Linked DNA regions of Homo sapiens. The protein of the gene in region 5 purifies or fractionates together with the protein of the main gene of each other region. This does not show direct contact. Each region holds a gene or a part of one and is shown on either strand. Other genes may lie near its edges.

Region 1 (3,500 bases), on a different chromosome or scaffold from region 5:
GCCTGGCCTGAAATGTTTTAAGCAGGAAAGTGAAAGCCTCAGATTTGCAATTTAAAGATCCTTCTGACTTCTGGGGGCAGGAAAGGGGGGCTGTATTCACGCACGACTGCATTTGTTAGGACCTATGACAGATGACCTGCACATGTGTGTACATCCATGCTTACCTGTGTGTGCGGGAACCTTCCCACAGTACAAGGGTGTGTTCTAGCAGACATGTGTGCATGAGGAAAGGGGCCCAGCCAGTGCCCTGTTCCAGACCCCACTGTCTTCCTATGCTTCATGGAGACAGAGAGAACTGTGTGTCGGGCCAATGCCCCCTTCACATCACCGCATGGCCTTGGCTGGTGTCACGCACTCTGCCCTCCTTGAAAGCTCTGCTGACCGCAGATGCCTTGTGTGCCTCATGCAGGGTACACCCTGAATCCTATTCTCATGTCCTCTCCAGCCTCTTTTGAGGCCTCTGCTCAGGACCTGCCTTAGGGGCTCATGTGTGCATAGCAAAGGTGCCTATTCATCGGGGGCCAGCAAGCTGGGGGACGTGTATTTGGCAGTAGGGACCTGGTTATTGGGGAGCAAGAGCATTCCTGGAGGGCCTGGGCCAAGTGCTGGATTTCAGATATTGTGAAATCTGAAGATATGGCTCCCCACTGGCTCCTTTAAGCAGCCACTTCCCCAGGGCACTGAAAATAGGACTCCTTAGGCTAAGTGGAACATTTGGGGAAGCAGGACTATTGCACAAATTGGCCTTCATTGCTCAGTCTTCCCTGCTTCGCAGCTGCACTGGGTACCTTTGGGACCAAGGCCCTGTTTCAGCCCTTCCCAACCTGCACTAGCTGGGGCCTCTGGTCCAGAGTGGCCTCATTAGTTTCTCTGAAAAGCCAAAGTCTCCTTCACCCCTCACCCCAAGTTCAGCAAACTTTCCCATTACAAAGCCCTTTCACCAACCTTAGTTTCATTTGCTTCTCACAGAAACCCTGAGAGTGGCCATTGTCAGTTCTATCTCTCAAAGGAAGGAAAAGACTCAAAGGTTATGTAGATTGCTCAACCATCTGCACGTTTATTGCAGCCAGACAACAGATCCCCGAGTCCCTGGCTCCCAGTCATTCATTAATTGAGGCTGAGGGGTGGGTGATTAACGTTTTCTCAGCAGCTTCTATGTGCCAGGTGCTTTGCGTGTTTCTTTTATTTAATTTTCAGGCCAATCTTCCCTGATAGGAATTATTATTGCCGTTAATAGGTGAGAGGCCCCTAGAGATGAAGTCACCTGCTCAAAGGCATGTAGTTAGTAAGTTCTGGAGCTAGAACTGGAACTCAGGTCTGCCTGATGACAAATCCAGTGGTCTTTGCACCGATCCATGCTGCCTCTTGGCTGCACCCATTGATCAGCCAGGCTAGCCCTTTTTTTTTTTTGAGACGGAGTCTCACTCTGCTGCCCAGGCTGGAGTGCAATGGCACAATCTCAGCTCCCTGCAACCTCCGCCCCCTTGGTTCAAGCGATTCTCCTGTCTCAGCCTCCTGAGTAGCTGGGATTATAGGCGTGTGCCACCATGCCCAGCTAATTTTTTGTATTTTTATTAGAGACAGGGTTTCACCATATTGGCCAGGCTGGTCTGGAACTCCTGACCTCATAGACTAGCCTTTTAGGACACAAAATAAATAAGGCTTGGGCCAGTGTAGACAGTGGTTAGGCCAGGTATGGTGGCTCACGCCTGTAATCCCAGCACTTTGGGAGGCCAAGGTAGGTGGATCACCTGAGGTCAGGAGTTCAAGACCAGCCTGGCCAACATAGTGAAACACTGTCTGTACTGAAAATACCAGCACAGTGGTTCACGCCTGTAATCACAGCACTTTGGGAGGCCGAGGCGGGCAGATCACGAGGTCAGGAGTTCGAGACCAGCCTGACCAACATGGTGAAACACCGTCTCTACTAAAAATACAGAAATTAGCTGGGCATGGTGGCACATGCCTGTAATCCCAGCTACTCAGGAGGCTGAGGCCGGAGAATTGCTTGAACCTGGGAGACGGAGGTTGCAGTGAGCCAAGATCGTGTCACTGCACTCCAGCCTGGGTGACAGAGCAATACTCCGTCTCAAAAAATAATAATAATAAAATAAATAATAATAAAAATACCAAAATTAGCCAGGAGTCGTGGCACACGCCTATAATCCCAGCTACTTGGGAGGCTGAGGGAGGAGAATTACTTGAACCCGGGAGGTAAAAGTTGCAATGAGCTGAGATCAAGCCACTGCACTCCAGACTGGGTGACAGAGTGAGACCCTCTCAAAAAAAAAAAAAAAAAAAAAAAAAGACAATGGTTAATGTGATGACAAAATCATGCATGCAGGACTGTGTACAGGTAAGAGAACAAGTAACTGTTGGAGAGATGTAGAGTCAGGAAGGCTTCCTGGAAGAGGTGGTACATAAGCCCCCCAGTCTGATCTCTTAAAAGATGAGAAAGTAGGGGGAGAGCACAAGCGAAAATATGGAGGTGGAAAATTAAGGAGTCACAAAACTGTGTTGTGTAGGCTATATCGGTCTTGGGAGATCAACCCTGAACCTGGAATGTGCTGGGCTGCATTTAACTATGGAAGGGGCTTGAATGTCAAACTAAAGCATTCAGACTTGATTCTGTTGGGCATGGGCAGCCATTCCCAAAGCTACCATTTATTGAAACCACTTTGTTCTAGAAGGTTGTTCTTATGTTCATCTCAGTAGACAATGGACTCCTGAGGACAAGGCCTGGGTCTTTTTCCTGACCTCAGGTGATCCGCCCGCCTCAGCCTCCCAAAGTGCCAGGATTACAGGCGTGAGCCACTGTGCCTTTAAAGACTATTTTGTCTTTAAAGATCTTAATACTCAGTGGCCTGTAAATGAATCCCCCAGTGAAAGTGAAGTCAGGAGGTCTGAAGAGATCAGGAGTTCGAGACCACCCTGGCCAACATGGTAAAATCCCATCTCTACTAAAAATACAAAAATTAGCTAGGCATGGTCGCACACACCTGTAATCCCAGCTACTTGGGAGGCTGAGGCAGGAGAACCGCTTGAACCCGGGAGACGGAGGTTGCAGTGAGCCGAGATTGCGCCAATGCACTCCAGCCTGGGCAACAGAGTGAGACTTCTCCTCAAAAACAAAAACAAAAACAAAAAGACAAAATAGTCAAATTTCCTCAACAAGTTTCATGTTTGCTTGAGGCCAGGAGTTCAAGACCAGCCTGGGCAACATACTGAGATGTCATCTCTACAAAAAATTTAAAAATTAGCGGGGCATGGTGGCACAAACCTGTAGTCCCAGCTACTTGGGAGGCTGGGTCAGGAGGATTGCTTGAGGCCAGGAGTTCAAGGTTCCAGTGAGCTATGATCACACCACTGCACTCCAGCCTGGGCAACACAGTGAGACCCTATCTCAAAAAAAAAAAAAAAAAAAAAAAAAAAAAAAGAAGTTTCAAGTGGTTCTTCTGGATGGAAGCTGAGGAGCTGAGGGTATACCACAGGGCACCTTG
Region 2 (3,500 bases), on a different chromosome or scaffold from region 5:
GTTCCAAGAGGAGCTGTACTCCCTGCAATCCCTGCCTGACATTACTTGGAATGTACACAGGCAACCCACTGGCCCCTGCGCCATAAGGATTTTTGCTCAAAGCTATCATAGGAGAAGCTTCTCAATTCCCTTCCCACCTTAGTCTACCTGGCCAACTAGCTGTCACCTCCCCAAGAACCACCGACCACTGCCGCAGCCCACTCAGGCTATCTGTCACCAGATGACTGACCTAAGCCCACACTTCGAGAGCCAGTGGAGGTGACTCAAGTTTGTGGCAGACCAAAACTCGGAGGCAACAGTGAAGAGCTCGCTGTACAGGCAACCGATGTGCTGTCTGGCCCCAACAAGTCCGTTCAGCTATCAAGGCTTCCCGTCCTCAGGGGCAGCAGCAAAGCTTTAGATTCAGTATCTTCCGAAGGCTCCCCCAGTACAGCTGTGACACTGCACAATTCCATTCCTACACTACTGACACTGGGCTGGGGTATTAAAGAGGACAAGCGTCTCACCGGGGAGAGTTTGATGGGTGACTCTGTCTTCTTCACCACTGGAGTCTTGATGACTTTGGGAGAAGGAACCTCCCGAGGGCTCTTGGAGTTGGGCAGTAAAGATGGTGACAGTTGCTGCACCAGAGGGGCAGGTCGGGATGCAGTCTTGACGAGAGTGTTGGCAGGCTTTCGGGGTGCCTCAGGTGGCTGGAGCAGCCTAGATGTGCTGGCCTCCTCCCGGGCTGCCAAAGCAGGGAGCTTTGGGGTACTGCTGATGACAGGAGCCTTTCGGGGCTGGCTGGCTGGTCTAGGAGTTGGCAAAGAAGGGGGTCTGCTGGGGGCGTTCCTGATCACAGCAGGTAAAGGGGGCGACCGAGGACGCTGAGGTCTACGCACAGGTTCCTAAAAAAAGGCCCACAGAGAGTGAGAACACTGATCCTAGCATGAGACACCTGAGGAAAAGCCCTTCCCAGGCCCCTGGACTTCACCTCAGTGGAAGGTCTGGTGGTCACTTCCAAGGGCAATTTCTTCAGGTCTGCTTGGGAGCGGATGGGTGTGGTTTTCTGCAAGGCAAACATCATGATGAAGTTGTTTGCATATTTTAGTATACTTGAGCAAACTTTTTGGATAGTGTCTGGAACCAGGGACAAAAAAAATAGAAAACCTGAGCCATAGTCCTACTCTTACAAACCTCCTGTTCTCATTGGGGAGACACAAAATACATAAATACTCAACTATCAGCAAATTACAGGAAACTGTGTGATTAATCCAGCAACTGAGAGACTGGCAAAAAGTGTCAATAGACTAAATTCCTATAAAAGGAACCCAAAAAGGTAGAAAGGGCCCGAAGGATAGGGAAAACCTGGATGAAGCCAGAAAGGAAAGGTGGGATTTAGCAGCTAGGGAGGCATATAAAACATCATGGGTTAGTGAGAGCACATCTGCACAGACACAGAAGCCAAAAAGGGAAATGGTTGTGTACTAAATATGATAAACAGATGATATCACAGACATATCTAGAAAAAAACATAGAAAAAATAAAAATGTAAGTGAATAAGCAGTTTAAAAGGAATAAAAGTGGACACATGAAAAATTATGCAATCTTAGAAATATTAAGGAAATTAAATTATAAAACATGCATCTTTGCCTATGAAATTTGCAACAACATTTAAAAATAATGCTCTCATATACTGCTGGTAAATAATAGAAATTAACACATCTCTGGAGGGTACTTTAGAAATAGTTGCAAAAAGCCATAGAATTTTACAATGGACCTTTTAAGTCCTTTAATTTCACTTCTAGAAAGTCATCAAAACAATTATGTGTATGTGTATGTATTAATATAAAACATATACATGGCATTATCTCCCTATTTCTATTAAAAAATATATGTGTGTTATGTGTAGGTATTCATGAGTTCATGACAAGTTGGAAGGATGTATGGTTAATGATGGTTACCTCTAAGGCAGAATTTTTATTTTCTAGAGTTTTATACATTCTAAATGAATTGGACCACTTTGAAGTATATAAGCATTTTTTCTTAAGAATAAGCAAGGTGTTATTCTTAAAATAACACTGTTGGCAAATAGTACACGTGGACCTGGAGGTTGGGGTTGGAAAGCTTTGGCAAACAACGCGGGTGAGTGGAGGGTAAAACTGAGCCTGAGGGAACAGGAAAGCTACTGAAGGTTCCTGTCACAGGCAGAGCCCTGACACAGGCTGGCTTTGCCCACTGACCATGACCCACGTACCTGAAGGGCCTCCAGCTTCTCCTGCTGCTGGCGAATTTTCTCTGTCAGTTGTTTCTGCTTCTCTTCCTGCGTCTTCATGTCCTTTCTGAATGTTCCCAGGGGAACCTTCTGCTTTTGTTCAGAAGCCTCACACCTGTAGAGACAAGGTACTACAGAGGTCGTGGCAAACAGAGCGCCAAGCTCGGCAAGGACCTTTCTCTTCAGCCAGTCTACACTGTCTGTCACAAGAGCAACCACCTCAGAGTTCCCAATGCACAGAATTAATCTTATACACTGCAGGACATACATCTATTTTTATTTCTTGGGCAGTTATTAGGTGTGGCAAGACAGAGATGTAAGGTATGTGCACTGACCTCAAGAAACACAGTGAGGGGCAGGGGAGAAAAGTACCCACAATCCCCTTGTTAGACAATGTGCTCACCGGTCCTGTTCAGGATCAGGGTTCATGGAGCAAACCCAGGTGTCAGGGTAATCTTTTTCCACAGAACTCAGCTGGAAGGGGAGGGTTCTCCATTTCAGACACAAATCTGCAGAGAGCAAAAAAACCCCACATATCAGCCACGCCCACCAACTCTATCTGTAATCCGGGTTCCTCACAGGCCCACCACAATGATGCCCCAGACTTTGTAGGCAAAGATCTTCACTCGGGCTCCAACTCTGCCTATCCTTAGAGAATACTAATTCTTCTCAGGGACACTGATTCCAGGAAGGATGGAAACTTAATATGCTGGACTCTTAACACCCCCAGCCCCTCTCCCTTTTTTATCAAGATCCTGGCTCAGTCATCCACGCACACCAGAAACCATGTGGTACCAAACCAAGTGAGCCTGGCCTGGCTGCAGCTGGAGAGGCCTGGGAGGACAGATGACCTTCTTTCTCACTCAAGAGGGACAGGTGAAACTCAGCAAAGCCTCAAGACTGAGCTCACAGGGCCATCGTCAAACAGACTTGGATCCCTAGGGGACTGTAAGTCCATGAATGTCAGTCAAGTTAGGAGGCTGGCAGGAAGATAGAGAAAAGAGGCTTGTGGGCTGATGGAAATGAGTCGGGGGGGTCCAACCACCCAACTCACCGCACTGGATGGTGGTGGGGATTTCCATAGCTCTCCGGCGTTTGTAACGCAGCTCACTGGATGGGGGCTGGTTCCAGTTGGCAGAGAGGTAGCCAAACTCATCCCAGAACTTGATGATTCCCCTCTGGGCTGGAAAGCAAACACCGATACATCATGTTAGGAGCCAGCCTCTCTCTCTCCCTACATTCAGGT
Region 3 (3,500 bases), on a different chromosome or scaffold from region 5:
GGAGCAGCCTGGGGACAGGCCGAAGTCCCTATTGGACACTGCAGCCACCTGCATTACTGTGCTTGGGCCCTGCAGGCAAACCAGGTCCCTCCCCATCTGGTGCCTGCTCCAGTCTCCAGCCGCACCACCATTCCACCCTTGTCTCCGAATCACCCACCTGCCTGAGGTCCTAGCAGTACACAAGCTGACCCCAGCCCAGAAATGCACTCCCCTGGGCTCCCTCCGCCTCCCACTCAGACTCCAAGTCACAGCCCAGGCCTGAGTCGGCATCCTGCTCCTGTTCCTCCCCTGGCCAGCACTTGGCTGTGTCCCATCTCTTTTTTTTTTTTTTTGAGACAGAGCCTCGCTGTGTCGCCCAGGCTGGAGTGCAGTGGTGTGATCTCAGGTCACTGCAACCTCCACCTCCCGGGTTCAAGTGATTCTCGTGCCTCACCCTCCCGAGTAGCTGGGATTACAGACATGCGCCCCCACACCTGACTAATTTTTCTATATTTTGTAGAGACAGGATTTCACCATGTTGGCCAGGCTGGTCTCAAACTCCTGACTTCAAGTGATCTGCCTGTCTCGGCCTCCCAAAGTGCTGGGATTCCAGGCGCGAGCCACCGTGCCCGGCCGGCTATGTCCCATCTCTGCCCTACTCACATGCACTGGAATGGCTGTGACCCCCTGTGCCCTCCCCGGCATTCCTAGGACTTGACGTGAGTTGCCCTCAACATAGATTTGTCCTTATCAGCGCGTAGTTTTGCTGAGTTGAAGGCTATGGCATTGGGAAGCGGGGCTGGGGTTAGGGACCGGGTCCAAATTCAAATGCCCAGGACTCAGGAGACGAAAGCAACTGAAGTGGGCCCAATGGCAGCCATGATGGGCAGAGGCACACACATCGCTCCGCTCTGTCCACTCAAAAAAGCAGCAAAGGCTGGGCGCGGTGGCACGCGCCTATAATCCCAGCACTTTGGGAGGCCAAGGCGGGCGGATCATGAGGTCAGGAGATCGAGACCATCCTGGCTAACACGGTGAAACCCCATCTCTACTAAAAATACAAAAAATTAGCCGGGCGCGGTGGCTGGCGCCTGTAGTCCCAGCTACTCGGGAGGCTGAGGCAGGAGAATGGCGTGAACCCAGGAGGCGGAGCCTGCAGTGAGCCAAGATCGTGCCACTGCACTCCGGCCTGGGCGAAAGAGCAAGACTCTGTCTCAAAAAAAAAAAGCAGCAAAATGGCTCGGTGCAGTGGCTCATGCCTATAATCTCAGCACTTTGAGAGGCCAAGGCAGGCAGATCACCTGAGGTCGGGAGTTGGAGACCAGCTTGACCAACATGGAGAAACCCCGTCTCTACTAAAAATACAAAGTTAGCTGGGCGTGGTGGCGCATGCCTGTAATCCCAGCTACTCGGGAGGCTGAGGCAGGAGAATCACTTGAACCTGGAAGGCAGAGGTTGCATGCAGTGAGTCAAGATTGCACCATTCCACTCCAGCCTGGGCAACAAGGGTGAAACTCCGTTTCAAAAAAAAAAAAAAAAAGCAGCAAAATGATGACCCTGCAGTTCCAGCACTTGTGTTTCATGAGAAGCTGGAGATCTGGATGGTATGTCAAATCTCCAGATAGCTTTTTCTAATATTTTTTGGAAATGAGGTCTCACTCTGTGATCCGGGCAGGAGTGTTGGTGTGATCATAGCTCACTGCAGCCTTGAAATCCTGGGCTCAAGTGATCCTCCTGCCTCAGCCTCCCAAAGTCCTGGGATTACAGGAGTGAGCCACCGCATCAGCCGAATCTCTAGACTTTTTAAAATTGGCAACTGATTCAAAACTTAAAACACACATTTTGGGCCAAAGGGAACTCTGCTGAGAATTACACTTTGGGCTACCGGCTTGGAGGAGGGCAGGGGGCGTGGGGGGCTGGTGGCTCAGGGGTTCTGCCCAGGGCTGTGTACTCACGCCATGGACTGGTGGAAGTCGGATAGGTCCTTCTGTGTGGCGTGCAGAAAGAGGACGGTGGCAGCCTGGGGACTCAGCGACCCGTCCCAGGAGGTGCTTCCCGCCTGAGGGGAGCAGGTGGAGGAGTGTCAGGACCTGAAGGGCAGCCCCGGCTGCGCCCAGCCCCAGGAGGGCAATACCTCGTGCTGGGTGACCTCGTGGGACACAAGCTGCTGCAGGAGGTGGAGGTGCACGGTGTAGCTCGGCTGCGAGCGGCTGGCCGAAGTGGCTCTCTGCAATGAGGCCTCTGTGAGCAGACAGGGCCTCACACTGGGTGCAGCCAGCCCCGCAACCCAGCAGACCGCCGCAAGAGCTGGGCATGGCCACTGGCCCAGTACCCGACCTACCCGCTTATGGATGAGTTGGAACTGGAGGTGGCACTGGCCTCGGTCTGGGTAGGTCTCAGTGCGGGGTTCCAGGGGGTACCACTGGTCCTCTCGGCAGCGCAGGTCCTGACAGGCGGGGATGCCCAGCCCGTGAGCGTCAGAACCTCATAGAGTCGGGGCAGCGGAGGCGACAGGAGGTGGACCCCAGGCTCAGCTTTGTGAGGACACAGAGCCTCTCCCCAGAACCCCTCCCAACCCCCTCCCTCTGCCTCGCTCCTGGGCCCCTTTCCTCATCCTCCTCACCTGCAGCCTCAGAACCACGTTCCCCAGAAAGTCGTCCTGGCCTTTGTCCTTCCGGGCCTCTTTAAAGATCCTGCGTCAGGCAGGGTCCCATAAGGGGGACGCAGCAAGGGTCGGAAGGGATTAGGCTGGAATCCACCCCCGGCCGCAGCCACCTGGACCCCAAAGGAGCCTGCACCCCAGCATCCAGTGTGCATGTTGGGGGATGGAGGGCAAAAGGAGCCCCAACCCCTTCCCTGTGAGCCCTGCAACACGAACCTGCGAAGCCCATGCAGATCCGTGAGCTCCCCAAGCTTCTGTCGGACAGACTCCACAGTGTCCAGGTCCCTGGCAGGACAGAGGTTTGAGAAGGAAGCAGAGAGAGTGCCTACGACCTCTTCCAGGAGGAGGTTCCGCCTCTCTCACCCCAGATCCCTTCCCTTCCCATCCCTAGGGGCAGGCCAGGTCACTCACCACATGTCCAGATGAAAGCTCGCATTGGTGATGTCCTCAAACTCCCTGTATGGAGAAAAGGGCGTGGTTGAGGGCCCTGGAGGGTGGATGCCCCCAGACGAAGCAGTAAGTGACCACAGCCCAGAGCCATGGAGTTGTAGCCTATCCCTGCCAAACTTCCCTCCTCCCAGCCGCATCCCTTTTTTTTTTTTTTTTTTTTTTTTTGAGATGGAGTCTAGTTCTGTCCCCCAGGCTGGAGGAGTGCAGTGGCAGGATCTAACTCACTGCAACCTCTGCCTCCTGGGTTCAAGCAATTTTCCTGCCTCAGCCTTCCAAGTAGCTGGGATTACAGGTGCCCGCCACCACACCTGGCTAATTTTTGTATTTTTAGTAGAGACGGGGTTTCACTGTGTTGGCCACACTGGTCTTGAGCTTCTGACCTCGTGATCCGCCCGCCTAGGCCTCCCAA
Region 4 (3,500 bases), on a different chromosome or scaffold from region 5:
AACCCTGGAGGCTCCTCTCTAGCCCATGAGAGGACAGGGCCATGGAACAAGGAGGTGGCAGAAAAGATGGGCAGCTCTGTACACAGCATGGGGCTAAAAGTGAGGGCTGTGGAGTCAGATTGCACGGGTTTGAGCCTCAGCTCTATCACTTACTAGCTGTATGTCCTGGGGCAAGTTTCTTAATCTCATGGTTCCTTGGTTTCCTAATCCATAAAATGGGGGTCATAATAGCCAACGCTCTAGTGTTGTTGGGAGGAAGTAAAGTGTTTAACACAGCACTGGGTACTTGGGGGTTGTTACCTTTCAAAAGCAAAGGATAAGGGAAGGTGTGGGGTGGTAAACGCAAAGGATGGCCCATCAGCAGGCAGCCGGCCCTCCCCAGGGGTGCAGGTGCCCTGCTGCCGCCAGGTCAGGGGAGGGAGAGCCCAGAGGACCTGACCTGCAACCTCCGCTGGCAGCCGTGCCCCTCTCTGCATGGCTACAGCAATGATGCTCCCTGAGAGGAGGTAGAGGGCGATGCTCAACAGATTCAGCCACCAAACCACCTGTGCAGAAATGGGAATGGGCAGATGAGAACGCAGCCGCTCTCCACGGGCAAGTGCTCCAGGGCCTGAGCCGGGAATGTTTAGGCACTCACCGGGTTGCCAAGCAGATAGACTCGGAAATCTGTGTCATTGACCCCTGAGAAGCGTAGGCCCTGTGGAATAGAGACCACCCTGCTGACCCAGGCCCAGCCCATCCTCGGCCACACCCATTAGGGGGAGGAAGATGGTCACCTTCCACAGACAGGGAGCCTGGACACGAACCTCAGGCTGGCAAATTCTACACGAGCTCTCTGGGAAGCAGGGTCAGAATTAGGGCAGAAAACAGATACTCCCACCTCTGGCCAACCCATCCCAGGAGGCCCCTCGCCCTGCCGCCCTAGTACACCCACCCCCGCCTCCACCGGTCTCCCTGCTCTTGTTCTTGGCTCCATTTCCTGGGAGGAGCCCCAGCCTTGGATCCTACCTGATAGTTGATAGGCCAGTGCCAGGGTTTGGACGTGAACTCATTGTCCTTGGGTTTGAGGCCACTGTTCCCCTGCATGAAGGTAGCAAAGAAAGCTAGTCAAGACAGAGATCTAGAGGGCTGACAGAAATGTGGGGCCCAGGTTTTTCTGATATAGGGCCAAGCGCCGAGCAGAACCTTCTCTCCTTCCCTTCCCTTGCAGGGAAGAATCAGGCAGCTGCTGTCTGCCTACCTACGACACTTGCTTTACTTCTCCCAGACAAGCCTCCATCTCCCATAAGGGGTCCATTCCAACCTTCTAGGGAAAAAGAAGGGAAAGAGGAAATTGTTCCAATGGGCACAAAATATATACCCATCTGCCAAGCTAAGGACAAGGTGTGAAAATGGTGGGAGAGAGGGGATATAAAATGAGGCTTACAGCCGGGTGCAGTGGCTCATGCCTGTAACCCCAGCACTTTGGGAGGCCGAGGCGGGTGGATCACCTGAGGTCAGGAGTTCAAGACCAGCCTGGCCAACATGGTAAAACCCCGTCTTTACTAAAAAATACAAAAAATTAGCTGAGCGTAGCGGTGGGTGCCTGTAATCCCAGCCACTTGGGAGGCTGAGGCAGGAGAACCACTTGAACCCAAGAGGCGGAGGTTGCAGTGAGCTGAGATCATGCCATTGCACTCCAACCTAGGCAAAAAGACCAAGACTCAGTCTCAAAATAAATAAATAAATAAATAAATAAATAAATAAATAAATAAATAATAAGGCTTACTTATTTGTTCCCTTCAGGGGCCAATTTCAAACAGAAAAGCAGAAACTCTCATGCGTGCCTAGACTTGGAAGAGGTTGCTTTAGCTTAGTGCTTCTCCACCTTTTTTTTCCACTACTGCCCCTCTACCAGGAGCCTTTGTAGACAAGTTTCTCCCTAAACACACTCCATGACATTTTAATACTTTATACTGTACATCTTACTTGTGCTTTATACATAAAAAATTAGATATTTTGCCCTCCAAGAACACATTTCATCTATTGGGAGAGAAATCAACCCTAATGCATGCTTTGGTTTGAAGGACCCAGACTCAGCCTCCCTAATCCAGCAGCCAAGAACATCTGCTAACCTTTCTCTACAGGGCAAACCAGGTCTTTGCTAAAACAGGAAGGAGTAGGGTCAGGATCCAGGATATTAACCACTAGGACTGGGTTCTGCCTTATCACTGGGACAGACTGAAAAGGCATTTCCCCAGAAGGGGAGTCAGCTGCCATGACTTAGGCCGGAGCTTCTCCACCTCAGCACTCCCAACATTTCGGGCTGGATGAGTCTTTGCTGTGAGGACTGTCCCGTGCATTGCAGAGTGTTTAGCATTCCTGGCCTCCACTCACTGAATGCCCGTAGCACTCCTACCCTCAACCCCTCAGTTTCCCAGCCAAAAATTTCTCCACAGATGGCCAAAAGTCCCGAGAGGCAAAATCACCCTCAATTAAGAACCACTGGTATAGCCTAAGAAAGACCCAGAAAGTTCAGTGGACTGCCACCCAGTGCCTTATGAATCCAGTTCAGCAAGGGGCTGGGAATAGTTTACAGGCCTCTACATGGTGGAGAGGTTGTGCCTCCAAGGTCAAAAGTGCATCCAGGGCATCAGACACAAAGGGGACAGCTGCACGGCCCCAGCGTCACTGCGGCCCTTTGAAGGACCTGGGAATGAGGAATGAATCATTCTGGACCCCTGCGGCAGTTGCTGAGGGAAACCAATTCCTTCAAATTGTACAGTTTGGTCCCAAACCCAAGGACTCCAGCCAGAACTGTACCAAGCCAAGGGAATCTTATTCACTACATTAAACTCTGAGAAATCCTGCTCTGTTGCTAAACTAAAAGAGGAAAGAAAAATCTGCAACCATCACAGGCATATGTACTTGTAAGTTGTTCTCTATGGCTGAAATCTGGATGGGCTCATTCCTGTAACTGCACCAGGCAAGGCAGCCTTCTCCTCCAGGTCCCGGGCCACTACTCAGCCAGCGGAAGAGCCCTGCCCCTGCAGTTTCTATAGTCTGGACTCACTGTTTTCATCTCTCTCCCCTCCCTGACTCTTTGTTGGCTGAATAAGAAAGCTCTCATTACTTCCCTTTTCTTCTCTGACTCTACTTCTTAGATAATGAAAGACAAAATGAAACTCGTAGATTTAGTCTTAAAATTTGACCCAGGCCCAGAATGATATTCTGACTGACAGGCACATGTTCAAAAGAGCTATGTCATCAGGCCACAGTGACAGCTACAAGCAGAGAGTCAGAAAGGAAGTGACCCAGAGATGCTTAATGTCAACTTATCACCTCCCAATGCGCAAAAATGACAAAATTTGAATTTTTAAAATTTAATCTGGTGAAATAAGTCAACTATATGTACTGAGTACTGCTTACATAATCACTTCCAGGGAAGTCCACTTGACAATGGCTTACCAGGGGAAAAATAACAAGTGCTACACCTCCCTGCAATGCTGTGGGTAGAGTGA
Region 5 (3,500 bases):
AATGGAATTTTATATAACCATTAAAAAGAATGAGGTAGCTCTACTTGTCATGATATAAAATGATCTCTAAGACTTATATTATTAGGTTTTCATATGTATAGAACAGTAATGCAGTGTATTGTTCCCACTGGTGCCTTGACAAAGATATGTGCATGTATATGTAAGGGGACACATAAATTGACACATATACCATAGGCATATACACATGTCATATGTACATTAAAATATTCTGAAAGGATACACAAGAAACTGTTCACACTTGCTCCTTCTTCAGTTATTTCTTGAGGAAATTTGGTTTTCATTATTTACTGTCCTGCACAATTTGAATATTTGGTCATGGGCATGTATTTTCTTTGTAATAACATCAGTTCTTCAGAGAACTAGCTGGTAGCAGCTAAGAATCAAAAATTCCAATTATACAAGGGTATGAATGAGAATCCATTAAAATGTCTTCTAAGAACCTTGGAAAACCTAATTTCAATATAAGTCTTCATTCTAGAACTGTAAGAAAATCAGACAGTAATTATAATGTATCTCGTTTGTTGTTGTTTCTTGGTACTAGAGTCCAACAACTTATAAAGTATGGAGGTCTGTGTCAACTTCACTTTGTAATGCCTCAGATGCCTTCACCTTGTTTGTAGTATCATAGAGAGGATTGTTCTTCTCTGTGTAGCTGGCATAGGGCTGCATTTCATCCTAAGAAAGAACTCAAAGTTAAAATCAATTCAAAAAATCATCATAGAGACTATCTGTATTTTTGTAACAGTTGCCCATAGCTTTAGTATTTCTAACAGGTGCTCAAGAGTGCTTATAATTGTGTTTCTGGGCCTATATAAACATAAGAGCAGGATTTGTTCTAACATTTTATCAAAAAGTATTTGTTAACTACATAAGTCTCTGTGTGGAGATAATGGCTCTGTGCAAGTAGGAATGGAGATGAATGAAGTGATATGAGTACTCCAAAGGAGAGCTTTGGAGACTTAGTAAGCTACTTATAATAAGAGATGAAGGAGCAGGATATGTTTTAAGTTTGTGTAAGAGAAAAATAATGATAGTATTGAAAAGGAAAAGTCAGGAATTAGAGATGCTTTCAAATTGGTGACAAGAAACACCAATTCATTTCCTCAAAAGATTACAGTCTAAAGGAGCCAAACATCATATGTGTTAGGATATAGTTCATGAAGTGAAAATGTGGTTCAGAGTGATGATGTATAAATAGTATTTGATAGATAATTAACAAAGTAATCACACATATAAGCACTGCAAGTCAGAACTGTTTTAGTTTTTCAACTGAAACACTAATATTGATACAAACTACAAATTATGTTGCTAGATTTTCAGACTATTGGCTTAAGTTTGCAATTAGTCTTTTTTATCTTATCTTACCTCCTCAACAACTGGAGTAGATTCTGTTTTATTCAATTTATATTTTCTATAAAAATAAAATAAATTGAAGTGAATGGAGGAAACATCATTGTTTAGATCGAAAATGGGAAAATAAGACAGTATACTATTGACAATTGTGTTTAATTTTGATAGAAGCCATAATAAATCAGAAAGAAACTACTAGAAATAAGTGAAGAATACTGCTCGTGGTTAATATCCCCAACTAAGAATATTCCGGATTTTGAAAAAGTGAAATTATGCAATAGAAGCTTGATGCAATTGAATGCATGTAACATCTCCTCTTTGGTGCATGAAGGAATTGTAATTATTTACCCAAATGTGAAAATTAACATGCACTTTCTCTCCCAAGATCCTACCCTAAATGGCCTAATTTTCCATGCTTCTATGCCAAAGCAACCTAGCAAAGTCTCTCTCATCATTCAAAGTAGTCCAAGTCTATCTAACACCTTCAAGATTTGATTATGGGAGATTTGATGTTAACATCCTAATATACCCAATACGGTCAGTTCCATATTTCTGACTCTTTTCTAGCCTAATAAAGCTGAAGAAGAAAAAAACATTCATTAGTCAATACCTGCAGCCATTGACTTTCAACAACCAAATGAATCCCACGATGGTCAAAATAATAATAGTAAGGATGATATATGGAATATATAATTTTGCTGATTTTTTGGCACCTGGAACTATAGACACAAAAATATATGGTTCAAATGTGGTACAATCCAAATAATGTACTATCTTATTATTCAATGTTAAAAAGAAATGAGCTATCAAACCATAAAAAGACATAGAGGAATTTCAAATGTATGTTACTAAGTGAAACATGCCAATCTGGAAATGTTACATATTGTATGATTCCAATTGTAAGACATTACGGAAAAGATAAAACTAGGGGAATAGTCAATAAATTATTGATTATCTGGTGGTGAGGAAGGAGGGAGGAATAGAAAGAGCAAGGAGGATTGTGTAGGACAATAAAACTGTTCCATATAATACTGTACTGGTGGATACATGTCATTACACATTTGTCCAAACCCATGGAATGTACAACACCAAGAATGAACTCTAATGTAAAGTATGGACTTTGGGTGGTAATGTTGTATCAATGGAGGTTCAACAGTTCTAATAAATGTAACACTCTGGTGCAGGTGTAGGTGGGAGAGGTTGGACATGGGCGAAGGCAGGGCTTATATGGGAAATTTCTGTACTTTCCACTCAATTTTGCGGTGAACCTAAAACTGCTCTAAAAATTAATGTCTACTAAAAATAAAGTTATCTATATTTATATCCATATCTATCTATATAGATCATTCAATAATGTCTCACAATACATGAAATTCATATCTGTAGTTTCATTTTCAACACTTCTGCCCCATTAATAGTTTGAGAATTATTAAAATAAAACTGCTTTTTCAATACAGACTCCAGAGTTTTCAGCAAGACATCACCTTATATCAGGGTTTTGTTGCTTTAAAGATTCATTGGTGGTGAATTCCTACCACTCTGTTATAGCAGAGTGTTTCTCCCCTCCAACTAAATGGGCAATTGTAAGGAAGATACTTGGAAAAGTAACCCTAATTCTGAAGTCATCTTTCTCCCAGGGCATTGAAACTGAAATGAATACACAGCAGGAACTTTATTTATTAGCTGCTGGCAGCAATACAAAACTCTATCTGACAAGCGTGCAAATCAACCAAGGAATTGCCAGCCTGAGAGGCAACGATTTGCAAACTATGCTCCTGGTGTTGCATGAATATAGCTCAGGGGCAGCAGAGGAGATGAAGTGGAGACTGAGCAGGCTGGCCTCTGGTCCTTCCACCTTTCTTCCACAGTTGATGTTTTTAAATACTGAATTTCTCCATATGTTATATGAAAATTAAATGTTTGGTTACATTGTTTAAAACAACATTTTTTAAAACCCTTGCTTTCAAACTACTAAGCTCTCTCTCATTAAATTTGTACTAGCAGAAGCTGAAGATCCACCGTGCAAGGAAGACATCAAGGAGATCCCTGCTGTACATAGGAATTTGAATGAGAATTTCCCTTCAATTCTGAGACACTATAAATCTGACATCATATAGTAATATGAAAGG
Region 6 (4,241 bases), on a different chromosome or scaffold from region 5:
CCCTCTGCTAAGAAGATGGCAGACCAGCAAGACACCCACTTCCAGCTGAAGTCCCTTTTGGAATTGGGAATTGGAGGTGGGTAGGAGAAGGGGTAAAAACTAAATGCGGCCAGAACTGAATCCAGACTTGCCTCCCTATCACACTGCCTCTGGCTACCTCTGGGGGCCAGTCTGCCTCTCCCCTCGATTCCACCCCATGCCCTAGTCTAGTTGTAATTACAGGTTCCAATTCCCCCAGACCTTAACGTCAATAAAGTAACACCCACCTACTCCCGCGCCCCCCACCCCCTACAAACACAGCTAGACCTCCGGCTTGTCATAAAAACTTTCTGGGCGGCCCCTTCCCTGGCAGCTCCCGAGGGTTGACCCAGAGCAGGTGCTAGAAGCCTCGCGGCGTCTTCCTGCACGAAGCGACCCAAGCAGCCCCAGTCCGCACCGCCTTGGTCAGCGGGCGCTCCCAGCACACACCCAGCGCGCGGAGCGACTCCTCCCAGAGGACGCCGAGTGTGTGTGTGTGTTGCGGAGATTAGGGGGTGGCGGGGGGGACGGCGGCAGTTTCTTGGGCTCTGGCGGCCCCACCCCCACCCCGGCAGCGCCCAGCCTCCAGGAACCCAAGGCAAGGCTAGGGCGCGGCGTGGTGAGAACGCGCTTCGGCTAGTGGGGGGAGCCCTTGCGCCCCCCGCACCCAGGCCACCGCGGGGAATCCCTCCTCCCCGGCATCTCCGGCCTCGGCCTAGGGTCCCCCGCAAGCCGGAGCCGGCGCGAGCGGCGCAGCGGGCGCCAGGAGGGGGCGGGGAGGGAGCCGGCGCCGGAATCACAAAGCCGCGAACCCGGCTAGGCGGGGACATTCTCATAAAACCGACCCTCTCGTGGCGAGCAGAGGGGGTTTTTTGCCCTACGCTCAATCCTCCAAGGCCTCAGTGCCGCCCCCAGTCTTTCCTGGCAGAAGAAATAGTAGCCGACCACTGTTGGGGAAACTGAGGCCAGAATTCTGACTTACAGAGGGTAGCTGGGGGGAAGGGGTGCGAGACCACCTCGCCTACAAATTCTGCTCCTATGCCTGCCGCGATCTCCGTTCTGGCTCCAGGGCCTGCCCGCGCACACACTGGCCTACAGCGGGGACCAGGCGGAGGGGGCGCTCAGGTGTGAGACGAACCCAGGTGTGCGGGACCCACCAAGGTGTGTGGGACCCAGGTGTGCTGGAGACCCAGGTGGCTCAGAAAACTCAGCTAAATGGCTGGAAGAGGGTCGCAATCACCGTCCCAGGCTAGCACCCTCTACAAAGGAACCTGGGGCCCCAGAGCTCCGGGGAGGCGGGATGGCTTGGCCAGCCAGGTCCAGCTTGTTCCCGGAACACCAGCCGGTTCGGCCCGGGAGTGGGGGTTGGGGAGGCGCCGACTGGGAAGCCGGCAGGCCGGCCCAGCCTTCCCGCTGTGCCGATATTTACAATAATAATGTCGCGATTAACGTGGCGGGGCGCTTGGGGCTCGCCGAACGACCCCGGCGGCTTCTCCTGCCTGAATCTGGACTCCGAGAGAGAGGAACGGAGTGTGTGTGTTTGTGTGTATGCGCTGCAGGGTGTAATGTAATGTGACACTGTTGGTTTAAGGTGTGTGTGACACCCAGTGTTAAGATGGGTGAAGCAGTGGATTCTGTGTTTGTGACCGTGAGGCGCTGCTGTAGGTGCCAATTCCTGTGTTAGAGTGTGTGCCATCAAGCGTGTGCTGAGATACTGGGTTGTGTGTTTGTGTGGGTGCAGTAGAGGGGTGCAAGGAGACCTGTGCTGTGTACCTATGTTCTGGCCAAGAAGTGGGTAAGATGATATATGCTAGGGTGTGTTCCTTAAAGGAATGTGGGGGGTGGCTAGGTTTTGAGGGTTCATCTAGTGAACTGTGGCTGTGACACTCGTACATGAGGGCACGAGATTGTGTTTGTGTGTCCACGTCGCGGGGTGTCACACCCGGTTGTGTTATTGCTCTGTAAAGCCACGGGTTGTGTGTCGGTGCTGCTGATCGTGCAGACACTGAAGCGGATTCTGAGCTGGCGACGGTGCCCCAGTGGGCGCTGGTGTGCGGGAGGTATGTCTGTGTGCACATATGCAGGGATGTATGTATGTGTGTATATATGTCCACGGTCTGGCCCTCTGGGTGCCCGCGAGAAGCTGGAAGCGGCTGAGTGAGCCGAGGTAGTTGCCCAACAAGTGTGTATGTATGTGTTGTGGACAACGGTCCTTGCTTGCTCCGTCCTCCGGGAGACCCCCACCAAACTGGGGGCCGCGCGCTTCCCCAAACCCATCCTCCACGCCGCGCGCTCCTGGAGTCTCCTTATCCCCGTCTCTCCGAGCGCGCCCAGGTTTGGGACGCGGGGACTAGGGTTCTGCTCAGCACCCCCTCCCCTCCCTCGGCTTCTCGCCGCGGACCTGGGAGGACGGAATCCCTCAGCCGCATCCCCTGCTATGGGCTCCCAGCAGCCCCCACCTCAGCCCCCTCGCGCCGAGCTCGTGTTGGGCCCCCGCGGCCTCGCTCCGCCGAGCGCCCCTCCCTCAGCTCCCGCCGGCCATGACCGCTTCGGGCCCCAAGCCGCTGCTGCCTCCACCGCCGCCGGATCCTTACCCGCCTCCGGGCAGCGCCGGCCGCCCGCCCCGCTGTCCATGAGCCGCCGCCGGCCCCGGCCTGGGCTGCGGCTCCGCACGGCTGGGGCTGGAGCTGCAGTTCGGGCTCCGGCTCCGGCTCCGGCTGGCTCTGGGCGCAGCAGCCCGGCGGCTTTGCGTCCGCGCCGCGCTCCCGCTCCCCGAGTGTGTGAGGCGGCGGCGGCGGCGGCGGCGGCGGCGGCGGCGGCGGCGGAGCCAGCAGAGAGCGGAGCGCACAGCCCGGCCCGCCCCCTCCCTCCCCCCTCCCTCCCGGCCCGCCCGCCTCCCCGCCCCCCCTCCGGCCGGGAGGTGGAGCTCGGGACCGCTCCGGTCCGGCTGGGAGGGGACCCCGAGCACCGCTCCCCAAAGCCTGGACCCCTCCCTCTGCCATCTCTTCACTGCCCGAGGCCCAGTACACAGGCCGTGCCCTCCTCTGAGCTTCACCTTACACTTATCCCACCCAAGCCTCCATCTAGGACCGCTCCTGGATTCCCCTCCTTACCCTACTCAAACACCTGTCCCCAGCTCTGTCTGCCCCCTGGGAAGTCGAGGCAAGGGAAGTGTCTCCCACAGCGCCTTCTTCCCTGGGCACCTGCTCCTCCATATCCACCCTCTTCCCGCCCAGATCCCCGATCGCCCTGTGTGGCCCTCCCTTCCCGCTGCGCTCGGGGAAAGTCCACCCCTCCCCCTCCGGCCGAAGCCGCAGAGCGGTCAGCCTCGGTGGCCGCAGCAAGCCGTGGGGGTGGGGCTATGGAGGGGACCGTGGGAGGAGGAGGCTAATGGGACCCGGGGGCTCTAGAGTGAGGATGGGGAAGATACACAAGCGTGAAGACGAAGTGCTGCTCCTGAGCTTAGGCTATTCGAGGGTCCCCTGATCACCTGCCCTCTGCACGGCGTAGTGCTGCGGCCACACGTATTTGCCAGTGACTTACATTATACAGTCACCGGGTCCCTGCCCCGCGAGGCCGCGCAGTGTCACGGCCTGTGTCACACGCCCTCGCAGTGCCACACGCTCCCTATCACACTCACACCAAATCACACACGGTGTCACACGCAGTGTCTCACACACTCCAATACTCGGTTTCTCCCATTCAGCTCTGGCTCTCTGGCGCCATCTAGAGGTCTCTGAGTAGCTTGGGAACTCCCTCTCCTGCGCTTGCGGTTTGGTAACCCAGGCTACCAAGTGTCCCAGTTCAACAGGACCTCCTGCCTTCTTCGCCTGCAGGCCCAGGCAGAGTGTTCTAGGTCAAAAGAATGAGGAAGGTTATCCCTAGCCAGGCCTAGTGCTGGGTGAGGAAAGGCTCTTGTTATGGGATGACCAGTTGTTGGGCCTCTTTTTGCCATAGCCTCTGACTCCCCATCTCTGTCCTTCCCCATTTTCCTGTTCCTACCACTCTTCTGTGCCTTTCCTCTTTCTTCTACTTCCTTCTCTTCTCAGCTCTGGCCTCTCTCGGTGGGATGCTCTTCAGGGTAAAAGTGGAATCTCTGGTTAGCTAAGAGGGCAAGCAAAGTCTGTCCAAGATCTCTCCCAGAGCAGCCCTGCTTAACTGGACTCCTTTTCTGACCTGGGCTCTGCTCTATCCCTCAGCCCCAGGAGCCCAGGGGCAGGGCT
Region 7 (3,500 bases), on a different chromosome or scaffold from region 5:
CCAGGCTGGTCTCGAACTCCTGACCTCAACTGATCTGCCTGCTTCGGCCTCCCAAAGTGCTGGGAATATAGGCATGAGCCACCATGCCCGACCTAGAATTTTTTCAAATAAGCAACTGTTAACAAAAAATTCTACACATCAAATCTCAAAATTTTTTCTGAGGAGAGACATACGATCCAAAATTGTAATAAATATTCATACAACTTATTGTGAATGACCATATAAAGAGTTTACATTAATTATCACAGGGGAGTACATTTGTCAGGTTAATGATCCATGTTCTTCTTAAAAGTTATTTATAAAACATTATTTCTCCACACTGAAAAAAAAAAGCATAATACTGAGTTGATTGCTCTATTAATTTAATGTCTTAAAACTGTACAGAGTACATACACTGCATTCCCAGAGCCCTAGCCCTGCACAGTCTAGTGAGCCACGCAAGGGCCCCATGGGCACCAGAGACAAAGGTAGCAGATTGATTGTTAAGAACTAATGAACTCGAGATACGTTTAATAAGAGAAATTCTGTGGTCACTTAGGAATTTTGTAGTTCATTATTCATAACATTAAGGTTTTTTTTAGCTGGATGTGATTTGAGGGAAAGAGAAAGCAATTAGTGAGGAAATGCATGAAAATACCTAAAAGGAACATTTAAAATGAGATTAACTAAATTCCTACGAATGTGAGCAATTGTCACTTTCAAACTTGGCAGAACCATGCTGAGTCCCCATCACTCTGAAACGTTCAAACTCAGAAGCAATGTTAACCATTCATTTTATTTCCTGTACTTTCACAGAATTCTTCACGCACATGTACTAGTATGCAGAGTTAACATAGCAGGCCTGACTGCCATCCTTTGAAAGGCCTGATTACAAAACTGTCCCTTGGCTGGCATCTGGGAATTTGGATTTGGGGAGGGTTCTCACTATCCTAACTGATAGTATTCCTAAACTGATTATACAAACAATGTGGTTTATGCTCAACAGCTGACCTGCTTTTCTTCTGGGAATCTAGGATTTTAGTATATGCCAGGCAGAGGGTACCCAAGTGTCCAGCTCCCAGTAGAAACCCTGGGCACTGAGCCTCTAATGAGTTTCCCTGGTTGGCAACATTTCACGTGTACTGTCATAACTCACCGTGGGAATGAAGTGCATCCTGCGTGACTTCACTGAAAAAGGAACTTTGGAGGCTTGCACCTGGTTTTCCTTTACACTTTGCCCCATACACATTTACCCTTTGCAAATTTTGCTTTGTATCCATTCACAGTAATACACAAGAGCCATGACTAGGACTACATGGTGAGGCCTGTGAGCCCTTCCAGCAAATCAGCAAATCTGGGAGTGGTTCCAAGACTCCCAACATGTAAGTTATCAACTTATTGCCAAATTCACCCTTTTTTGCCTGCTCTGTGAAAACTGTATCTGGCCCTTTAATATTCTCCCACCAGTTGGCACAAGGGTAAGCTTTGTTGGTAAAAAGTGCGGAGAGGCCGCGTGCAGTGGCTCAAGTCTGTAATCCCAGTGCTTTGGGAGGCCAAGGCCAGAGGATCGCTTGAGCCCAGGAGTTCCAGACCAGCTTGGGCAACAACATGGCAAAATCCTGTCTCTACAAACAAGACAAAAAATTAGCCAGGTGTGGTGGCATGTACTGCAATTCCAGCTACTGGAGTGCAGGTGGGGGCGCTGCTGAGGTGAGATCACCAGAGCCTGGGAGGTCAAGGTTGCCATGAGCCATGATGGTGCTACTGCACTCCAACCTGAGCGACACAGTGACACACTGTCTCAAAAAAAAAAAAGTGCTGGAGGCCAGGCGCAGTGGCTCACACCTGTAATCCCAGCAGTTTGGGAGGCTGAGGCGGGTGGATCGCTTGAGGTCAGGAGTTCGAGACCAGCCTGGCCAACATGGTGAAACCCTGTCTCTACTAAAAATACAAAAATTACCTGGGTGGGGTGGCAGGCGCCTGTAATGCCAGCTTCTCAGGAGGCTGAGGAACGAGAATCACTTGAACCCAGAAGGTGGAGAGGTTGCAGTGAGCTGAGATCACGCCACTTCACTCCAGCCTGGGCTACAAAGTGAGACTCTGCCCCCAAAAAAAACAGTGCTGGAGAGACACTGTAGCAAGAAAGAGTTTTGCTTCCTGCACAGGGCTTGTCTAGCACCAAGCTCCTGAAATGCATGGCAGCTAGCAGCATCCAAGGGTCAGCAGCTTCCCCAAGGCTTCTTACCCTACTACATGGTTTTGTAATGGAGTACCTCTGATAAGATACTTCCCCATGAGGCTTTCTCTGGCATCCCAAGAGGCAAAACTATACCCAGGTCCAGAAAACAAATTTACAAGAAGTTCCCTGGCAAGGCACTACAGTGACTTTTCTGCCATCCTAAGAATCACAGCTGTGCCCTCTCCAATAAGGGGTGGCACTCAGCCCAGTGAGGGGAACTCTTCCTTGGATATTCTGTCTTACTCCTAAGGGCAGTGGCTATTATGCCGTATATTACAAAATATTAAAACTGCTATGATTATTATATATCTGCTATTCTTTTCAATTCTCCTTAATAATTCTCCATATTAAACTTTCCCTGTTAAAATTACAGTATGATTTATCCCTATCCAGACTAATACAGAATAATTCTTAACAAGTAATACTAAAATCACTACAAACCTGAAGAGATGCTCCCCCATACTATTGCAAATCACTTCATCATCAGGAAACAGTTCCAAGGCCTGCTCATAGCAACCAAGTAAGTCTTGTATCCGACTGAGAGCATCAAGCTCTTCAGCCCATCTGAAAAGTGTGTACTGAAAAGTTTCCTTTACAAATAAGAAAAAAATTATGAATTAGTCAATAACATAAAAGATGAAAGAATATACATCATTAGTTGAAGATTCCAAGCAATCGAACTTAATCACTATTGAACAATCACCTTAAACTTCATTTAACTTTAGTAGGCACTGTTTTCTGAACAAGTGCACAAATGAATGAATTTTACCACCTACATGGCAATAATAAGCAGAATTAGTCTGACCACTCTCTAAACTCCCCCCACTCTTAGCTGCTGTATCACATTCTCCTTATTCTCCAGAACTGCCTCACTTTTGTCGGCTCCTGTGTTTTTGGAGTTTGTCCTTGGCCCTCTTCTTTTTTCACTCATCCATCCCTAACGCATTTATTATCACCCATGTGTTAATGGATGCTACATTTACATCTCTAGTCAAGACCTTCTCTTCTGAACCTCAGACTCATAGATACAGCTTCCTATTAGTCATTTCAACCCGGCAATGGATCTCCAGCCATTGCAAATGTAGTCCAACTCAAATATTTCCTGAACAATCCTTGTGCAAAGAACTGAAGCAACATAAATCTTGTTCTTATCCTCACAGAGGCCCTATAGAGAGAAATTTAATTTTGGAAAAGTTCAAAATGTTCTACACTGAACTCATCATACTCCTCTGACACAGGCTATAAGATTAAGACACCACTCAACCTCAAACCACAAAGTCAC

Evidence for each region.
Region 1: the proteins of CD200R1 (region 5) and SEZ6L2 purify together in Homo sapiens (affinity purification with mass spectrometry; one large-scale study listed by BioGRID and IntAct). This does not show direct contact.
Region 2: the proteins of CD200R1 (region 5) and MORC2 purify together in Homo sapiens (co-immunoprecipitation; one large-scale study listed by IntAct). This does not show direct contact.
Region 3: the proteins of CD200R1 (region 5) and UNC13D purify together in Homo sapiens (co-immunoprecipitation; one large-scale study listed by IntAct). This does not show direct contact.
Region 4: the proteins of CD200R1 (region 5) and POMT2 purify together in Homo sapiens (affinity purification with mass spectrometry, with the first as the bait; one large-scale study listed by BioGRID). This does not show direct contact.
Region 6: the proteins of CD200R1 (region 5) and PCDH1 purify together in Homo sapiens (affinity purification with mass spectrometry; one large-scale study listed by BioGRID and IntAct). This does not show direct contact.
Region 7: the proteins of CD200R1 (region 5) and PRMT9 purify together in Homo sapiens (co-immunoprecipitation; one large-scale study listed by IntAct). This does not show direct contact.

What each region holds. Positions count from the first base shown.
Region 1 is NC_000016.10:29,889,551-29,893,050, reverse strand, and holds part of SEZ6L2 (seizure 6-like protein 2 isoform 5 precursor), read left to right. Parts: intron 1-3,500. UniProt on the Homo sapiens protein: May contribute to specialized endoplasmic reticulum functions in neurons.
Region 2 is NC_000022.11:30,934,275-30,937,774, forward strand, and holds part of MORC2 (ATPase MORC2), read right to left. Parts: intron 3,438-3,500; coding exon 3,309-3,437; intron 2,764-3,308; coding exon 2,658-2,763; intron 2,370-2,657; coding exon 2,237-2,369; intron 1,049-2,236; coding exon 974-1,048; intron 888-973; coding exon 507-887; intron 1-506. UniProt on the Homo sapiens protein: Essential for epigenetic silencing by the HUSH (human silencing hub) complex. Recruited by HUSH to target site in heterochromatin, the ATPase activity and homodimerization are critical for HUSH-mediated silencing.
Region 3 is NC_000017.11:75,837,905-75,841,404, forward strand, and holds part of UNC13D (protein unc-13 homolog D), read right to left. Parts: intron 3,098-3,500; coding exon 3,053-3,097; intron 2,927-3,052; coding exon 2,858-2,926; intron 2,673-2,857; coding exon 2,603-2,672; intron 2,426-2,602; coding exon 2,321-2,425; intron 2,207-2,320; coding exon 2,114-2,206; intron 2,039-2,113; coding exon 1,935-2,038; intron 1-1,934. UniProt on the Homo sapiens protein: Plays a role in cytotoxic granule exocytosis in lymphocytes. Required for both granule maturation and granule docking and priming at the immunologic synapse.
Region 4 is NC_000014.9:77,279,384-77,282,883, forward strand, and holds part of POMT2 (protein O-mannosyl-transferase 2), read right to left. Parts: intron 1,081-3,500; coding exon 1,009-1,080; intron 698-1,008; coding exon 638-697; intron 546-637; coding exon 440-545; coding exon of another isoform or gene 301-439; intron 204-300; coding exon of another isoform or gene 154-203; intron 1-153. UniProt on the Homo sapiens protein: Transfers mannosyl residues to the hydroxyl group of serine or threonine residues. Coexpression of both POMT1 and POMT2 is necessary for enzyme activity, expression of either POMT1 or POMT2 alone is insufficient.
Region 5 is NC_000003.12:112,923,104-112,926,603, forward strand, and holds part of CD200R1 (cell surface glycoprotein CD200 receptor 1 isoform a precursor), read right to left. Parts: intron 2,091-3,500; coding exon 1,982-2,090; intron 1,433-1,981; coding exon 1,387-1,432; intron 697-1,386; coding exon 574-696; 3' UTR 1-573. UniProt on the Homo sapiens protein: Inhibitory receptor for the CD200/OX2 cell surface glycoprotein. Limits inflammation by inhibiting the expression of pro-inflammatory molecules including TNF-alpha, interferons, and inducible nitric oxide synthase (iNOS) in response to selected stimuli.
Region 6 is NC_000005.10:141,875,611-141,879,851, forward strand, and holds the start of PCDH1 (protocadherin-1 isoform 2 precursor), read right to left. Parts: upstream 2,801-4,241; 5' UTR 2,653-2,800; coding exon 2,613-2,652; intron 1-2,612. UniProt on the Homo sapiens protein: May be involved in cell-cell interaction processes and in cell adhesion.
Region 7 is NC_000004.12:147,677,664-147,681,163, forward strand, and holds part of PRMT9 (protein arginine N-methyltransferase 9), read right to left. Parts: intron 2,809-3,500; coding exon 2,660-2,808; intron 93-2,659; exon of another isoform or gene 1-92. UniProt on the Homo sapiens protein: Arginine methyltransferase that can both catalyze the formation of omega-N monomethylarginine (MMA) and symmetrical dimethylarginine (sDMA). Specifically mediates the symmetrical dimethylation of SF3B2.